Linked DNA regions of Homo sapiens: region 1 is reported to be linked to region 2. The links are microRNA targets in miRTarBase. Many come from high-throughput screens and were not tested one by one. Region 2 holds a microRNA gene; the other region holds the end of a gene's coding sequence.

Region 1 (3,404 bases), not on the chromosome of region 2:
TCCTTCGAGTTGAATATTCCTTACTGGTGGGTAGATGCAGGGTGGCTTCAGCAGAGAAATTGTTCATCTGTTACCACAGCTGTCTTGTTTCTCCAGACCTCTGGTGTAATAAACTGCCATCTTCCTTTCTAGATCTATGTTAGCGTTCCTGGATCCAAGAAGGTCATCCTTGACCTGCCCCTGGTAATTGGCAGCAGATCAGGTCTAAGCAGCAGAACATCCAGCATGGCCAGCCGAACCAGCTCTGAGATGAGTTGGGTAGATCTGAACATCCCTGATACCCCAGAAGGTGAGCCAGACCTAATGTCTTTTCTTTGTTTCTGGTCTACCTGGGTTTGTAAAATTGTGATGGTCCAGCATTTCTTGGGCAGGATTCTTATGTGGCCATATTTTCTTTTCTAGCTCCTCCCTGCTATATGGATGTCATTCCTGAAGATCACCGATTGGAGAGCCCAACCACTCCTCTGCTAGATGACATGGATGGCTCTCAAGACAGCCCTATCTTTATGTATGCCCCTGAGTTCAAGTTCATGCCACCACCGACTTATACTGAGGTGAGGATTGTCATCTTTACTGTTAAATTTGTCCTAAGCTTTCTATAAGAAGTTGACTTAGACGGATTGCTAAACTGGTTTGTTCTTTTTGTTCTTACCTGAACTGAAATAGTCTGTTTCTTTCTTTAGGTGGATCCCTGCATCCTCAACAACAATGTGCAGTGAGCATGTGGAAGAAAAGAAGCAGCTTTACCTACTTGTTTCTTTTTGTCTCTCTTCCTGGACACTCACTTTTTCAGAGACTCAACAGTCTCTGCAATGGAGTGTGGGTCCACCTTAGCCTCTGACTTCCTAATGTAGGAGGTGGTCAGCAGGCAATCTCCTGGGCCTTAAAGGATGCGGACTCATCCTCAGCCAGCGCCCATGTTGTGATACAGGGGTGTTTGTTGGATGGGTTTAAAAATAACTAGAAAAACTCAGGCCCATCCATTTTCTCAGATCTCCTTGAAAATTGAGGCCTTTTCGATAGTTTCGGGTCAGGTAAAAATGGCCTCCTGGCGTAAGCTTTTCAAGGTTTTTTGGAGGCTTTTTGTAAATTGTGATAGGAACTTTGGACCTTGAACTTACGTATCATGTGGAGAAGAGCCAATTTAACAAACTAGGAAGATGAAAAGGGAAATTGTGGCCAAAACTTTGGGAAAAGGAGGTTCTTAAAATCAGTGTTTCCCCTTTGTGCACTTGTAGAAAAAAAAGAAAAACCTTCTAGAGCTGATTTGATGGACAATGGAGAGAGCTTTCCCTGTGATTATAAAAAAGGAAGCTAGCTGCTCTACGGTCATCTTTGCTTAGAGTATACTTTAACCTGGCTTTTAAAGCAGTAGTAACTGCCCCACCAAAGGTCTTAAAAGCCATTTTTGGAGCCTATTGCACTGTGTTCTCCTACTGCAAATATTTTCATATGGGAGGATGGTTTTCTCTTCATGTAAGTCCTTGGAATTGATTCTAAGGTGATGTTCTTAGCACTTTAATTCCTGTCAAATTTTTTGTTCTCCCCTTCTGCCATCTTAAATGTAAGCTGAAACTGGTCTACTGTGTCTCTAGGGTTAAGCCAAAAGACAAAAAAAATTTTACTACTTTTGAGATTGCCCCAATGTACAGAATTATATAATTCTAACGCTTAAATCATGTGAAAGGGTTGCTGCTGTCAGCCTTGCCCACTGTGACTTCAAACCCAAGGAGGAACTCTTGATCAAGATGCCCAACCCTGTGATCAGAACCTCCAAATACTGCCATGAGAAACTAGAGGGCAGGTCTTCATAAAAGCCCTTTGAACCCCCTTCCTGCCCTGTGTTAGGAGATAGGGATATTGGCCCCTCACTGCAGCTGCCAGCACTTGGTCAGTCACTCTCAGCCATAGCACTTTGTTCACTGTCCTGTGTCAGAGCACTGAGCTCCACCCTTTTCTGAGAGTTATTACAGCCAGAAAGTGTGGGCTGAAGATGGTTGGTTTCATGTTTTTGTATTATGTATCTTTTTGTATGGTAAAGACTATATTTTGTACTTAACCAGATATATTTTTACCCCAGATGGGGATATTCTTTGTAAAAAATGAAAATAAAGTTTTTTTAATGGAAAAAAAAATGTCTGTGAGATGGCTTTGGAAAAGTTTTTGGAAAGAAGGTGTGTCTAAAGGAGTTTTCCTCTACTTAACAATCCACACTAATGAAAACCTTGTGGAGAAAACACTCCCTATGGACCCTAAGGAATGTCGGCAGAGTGGGGGCTAGAAGGTGAAGAGGGAAACCGTTTGAGGCATGTTTCAGATTCACTGAACAACTATACTGGGATTTTCCGGTTGTCTAAACTAGTTTTCCAAATCCATAGGTAATCATTACTAAATTCCTTCAGTTTTGGAGTTCATGGGTTCTTGAAATACAGGGAGATGATGTTTATGAGGGCATTTGAAAGAAAAGAGTGGCGGTTCCTTTTTTTGAGACAGTCTCACTCACCCAGGCTGGAGTGTAGTATGATCTTAGCTCACTGCAGCCTTGATTTCCTGGGCTCAAGTGATCTTCCCATCTCCGCCTCCCACATAGCTGGGCTACAGGCATACACAACTACGTTCAGTTAATTGTGTGTGCGTGTGTGTGTGTGTATGTGTTTGTTTTTTCTACGCTCAGCTAATTTTTTGATTATTTGTAGAGTTCGGGTTTTGCCATGTTGTCCAGGTTGGCCTCAAACTTCTGGGCTCAAGTGATCTGCTGGCCCTGGCCTCCCAAAGAGTTGGGAATACAGGCGTGAGACACCACACTCAGCTGAAGATCCCCTTTTTACAATATGGTTTTATCATAGGGTTTCTTCCCAATGTAAACTTGATTTATATACTAACAAGGATAACTTCAGGACTTAAGAGGTTATAGAGTTATGAGTATTAAATTCTTTGGAGGCAGCTAACCATTTTTTATTTTCACAGTTCCTAACCAAGCACATAACTCAGTAAATGTTTGCTAACTATTCAACTTCACCCTCATCCCTTAGATGATTTGATGGTTCCTATTCCTTGTAGGGTAATAGTAGTAGAGTAATACCACAATCCCATGTTTAATTGGTGTGATTTTCTTTCTTTCTTTCTTTCTTTCTTTTTTTTGAGATAGAGTCTTGCTCTGTCTCCCAGGCTAGAGTGCAGTGGCCCAATCTTGGCTTAATACAATGTCCGCCTCCCAGGTTCAAGCGATTCTGCTACCTCAGACTCTTGAGTAGTTGGGATTACAGGCATGAGCCACCACACTCAGCTAATTTTTGTATTTTTAGTAGAGACGGGGTTTCACCATGTTGGCCAGGCTGGTCTCGAACTCCTGACTTCCCGTGATTCACCCGCCTCAGCCTCCTAAAGTGCTGGGATTACAGGTG
Region 2 (3,404 bases):
GAAATAAACCCCTATTGTACATACATGCACCATTCGAGTTGGGTCTATTTGTTACAGCAGTTTAGCCAACCCTAATCCACATATACAGTGTCAACAGTGGCTGAGATGACATGTTGCACAGACATGAGAGTCAGAAAGACCTGAGTTCAAGTCCCAGTGATGACATTTACTATCTGTGTGACCTTGAAAAGCTGCCTAACTACTCTCAGACCGTTTCCTCATCAGTTTGTTTTGAGAGTCAAATGAGAAAATTACTAAAAAGCCCTTAGCACTGCATCTAAGATGGGGAAGAGACAGTCAATGAATTCAAGTTTCCTGAAGCCCAGTTGCATCCCTGCCCTGCCCTGGGCTCTGAGAGACAGTTGCCGAAGCTAGTGTTAAAGTGAACTAAATATGGCCTGAGTGGGACTTCGTACTTCTATAGTTGAGTCCTTGTGGACAAATTGCAACCTAGCTTAATAGGTAGACAAGATTGAAAACCTAACTTAGGAGTATGCGCCTGTAACAATAGCTGAGTCTTGGCCAATCCCAGAGGCCGTAGTTCAACCGCTCATACGCTGCTGAGTGTTCAAACTGTACTCAAATAAGGCAAACGCCAACTTGTAACAATCCAGCCATTCTGTACTTCACTTCTGATTTCTGTACATCATTTCCCTTCTTTTGTCCATAAATCTTCTTCCACCACGTGGCTGCGCTGGAGTCTCTATGAATCTGCTGTGATTCTGGGGTCTGCCCAATTCGCGAATCATTCATTGCTCAATTAAACTACTTTAAATTTAATTCAGCTGAGATTTTCTTTTATCACTAATTTGAGCTGGTTTTCTAATGTTTGCAAATGGGAGGGCTGACTAATATAACACTGCTCCAAATATTAACGTCTTTCTCCCAACCCATCACCCAGGCAGAAGTGGTCCAGCCTGGGCAACCCTAGGAGGAGGCTAGCTCTCCTCTAGGAAGGCTTAGGATGCAGCCAGTGGGCAGTAACTGGCTCACTGTCCCCTGCAACTGAAATCAGAACTGGTTCCAGAAACCAAGTTGACCCCCAACCAGTCTTTCCCAAAATATGGCTCTATGCCCATCTCTGGTCAGGCTGGGCTGTTTTCCTGGACAGAGAAGTCTCAGACAAGCAGGCAGTGGTTAGTGGGCTGTGCCCAGGCTGAGAACATTTCCCAGAGAAGATGGCATCTCTGGCAGTCCCTTAAAGCCAGCAGAGGCCAAGTCATGTCCAAGAGGCCAAAAGGCCCAATATGGTGGAGACAGTATACAGTCCCCATGAATAAGGGATGCTGATGCCTTCCCTATGTACCAGGTAGTCACTGCCTGAGGGGCCCAGAGCAGCAGGAGGGCAGAGCCAGCCTGGGCAGGGGCACTGGGCCGGAAGTGGGGCTCACATCCTCAGCACACACACACACACACACACACACACACACACACACACACACACACAAGCGAATGCACACACACACACACAAATGCACGCACACACAGATAGGTGCATTCAAACATCACATACACGTGTACATTCCTTGCAAAATCAACTTCTGCTGATAGCACAACAAACAATGGGGCCACAGTGTGGCATGGAGGAAACCCTGGAGTCTGATCTCATTTTTTTTTTTTTGCATCTGTCAGGGGATAAAGATATTTGATAAAAATCCTTGAGTCACATCCCCACCAGGTCCCTGCCTACCTGTAGACCCCATCAAGCCAGCTCCATGGCCCTTCAGATACCGCCTCACTGGGTCCCCAGGGATTGACCTCAGTCCTGGAAATGCAGAAATATCTGTATCTGTCACAGCTGAGACTGGCGGCCTTCCGCCGGCTTTCCTGGAGGCAGAGCTGGAGACAGGGACTTGGGTGGATGTGGTTTTTGTTTTTGTTTTGAAAGGGGCTTTCAGGAGAAGGGAGGTGAGGACTACAGGATGCAGAAGGGGACAGAGCAGAGTGAGAATGTGGTCCCTTAAAGTCCCGCCTTGACCTATCCCACGAGCAGCAGAGAGCACGCCACAGGATCGTCCCCACCGTGGGGCAGGGACCAGCCATTCACGTTGCTGTATCAGTTAGTCACTGGGCCATTACTGGGCATGGCATCCCATCCCAGGCAATGTGGCTCCCATCTGAGGGTGATTCTCTAGAGAAGGACAGCTGTGAGCTCTCAGCAGGTGAGGCTCCAAAAGCAGCTATACCAGTCTAGACCTCAGGGGAAGGGGGAATTCATCTCTAGGCAGGGATGATTTTCATAACATTGAACTCTTGACATGCAGGAGCACCGACCAATCAGAACAGACACGGTGACCAAACAGGCACAGCCACACCAGTGGATACCAGCGGAATGTCCACGCTGCCTCTGCGAAGGGACAGTCCCATGAGCCAAGCCCTAGACCAGCTGTTCTGGGAGCACTGCATCATTGCACTGAATTCTCACAACCGCCCCATAATGCTGGGACCATCCCCATTTTCTTGCCCAACAGCCTCCGTCTCATAGACACTAGGCGGCTCTCCCAGGGTCACACGGTCCAGTCAATAACGGGCAGAACTCGCACTCCGATCTGTCTGGCTCCAAAGCTGCTAAAAATTTTCTACTTGGCCTCACTGGCTTGACAAAGATAAAAAAGAAGGCAAGTCCTTCTTTCCAAGAGATGCTGAGGTCCCTCGGTGACACTAGGTCATGATTTTATCATGTTCAGAGGGCAATGAAAGGGACAGAAAACAAGCGATGTGTGATCTCCTGTCATGTCAAGAGACGCTGTTTTCAAAGAAACGTACGTTTCGCAGAATCAATACGCTGTGGGGCCTCAGAAAGCAGAGGCAGACACACGGCCCCAACCCGTGCACGTGGGAGCCCTGTTACAAGAGACGGCAGAAATTAAACTGAATCACCTGGAGCAAGTACATTGTAAATGTTCAATATTAATGACCCACCTCGGCCCCAAAGAAGAGAGCGTTGGGCTTTGTCCAGCTGTGTGCTCTGTTGTTAAAAGACCACCTTGTGGCCAGGCACGGTGGCTCACACCTGTAATCCCAGCGCTTTGGGAGGCCAAAGCAGGTGGATCACCTGCGGTCAGGAGTTCGAGACCAGCCTGGTCAACATAGTGAAACCCCGTCGCTACTAAAAATACAAAAATTTGCTGGATGTGGTGGCTGGCGCCTGTAATCCTAGCTACTCGGGAGGTTGAGGCAGGAGAATCGCTTGAACCTGGGAGGCGGAGGTTGCAGTGAGCCAAGATCACGCCATTGCACTCCAGCCTGGGCGACAAGACTGAAACTCCGTCTCAAAAACAAACAAACAAACAAACAACAACAGAAAACAATTTGTGCCTTAATGGGCATTCCTTTCCCTTCTTGCTAAGGGATGAGATGATGGCAGAACTTGTGGCCACTGTCCTGGAGGTTGACAAGCTTTT

Evidence for each region. The annotated mature microRNA hsa-miR-3670 reads AGAGCUCACAGCUGUCCUUCUCUA and lies in region 2 at 2,133-2,156, opposite strand. An mRNA with a match to its seed (bases 2 to 7 or 8) in the 3' UTR can be bound and repressed. Matches are read on the target gene's strand: a 7mer-m8 pairs with bases 2 to 8, a 7mer-A1 pairs with bases 2 to 7 and ends in A, and an 8mer does both.
Region 1: the mRNA of TXNIP is a reported target of hsa-miR-3670. Seed matches in the 3' UTR shown: 7mer-m8 at 1,942-1,948.

The regions. Positions count from the first base shown.
Region 1 is chr1:145,991,166-145,994,569 of GRCh38, reverse strand. It overlaps TXNIP (thioredoxin interacting protein), which reads left to right. Exons shown (of 8, transcript NM_006472.6): 5 at 1-26; 6 at 133-289; 7 at 403-554; 8 at 684-2,135. The coding sequence ends at 719. Among named protein-coding and RNA genes, the nearest start is that of TXNIP, 3.7 kb to the left of the region's middle. RefSeq lists an enhancer at 1,783-1,862.
Region 2 is chr16:16,305,161-16,308,564 of GRCh38, reverse strand. It overlaps MIR3670-2 (microRNA 3670-2), which reads right to left and starts at 2,195; the gene lies at 2,131-2,195. All of the region lies in intron 1 of LOC105371099 (a long non-coding RNA gene), which reads left to right.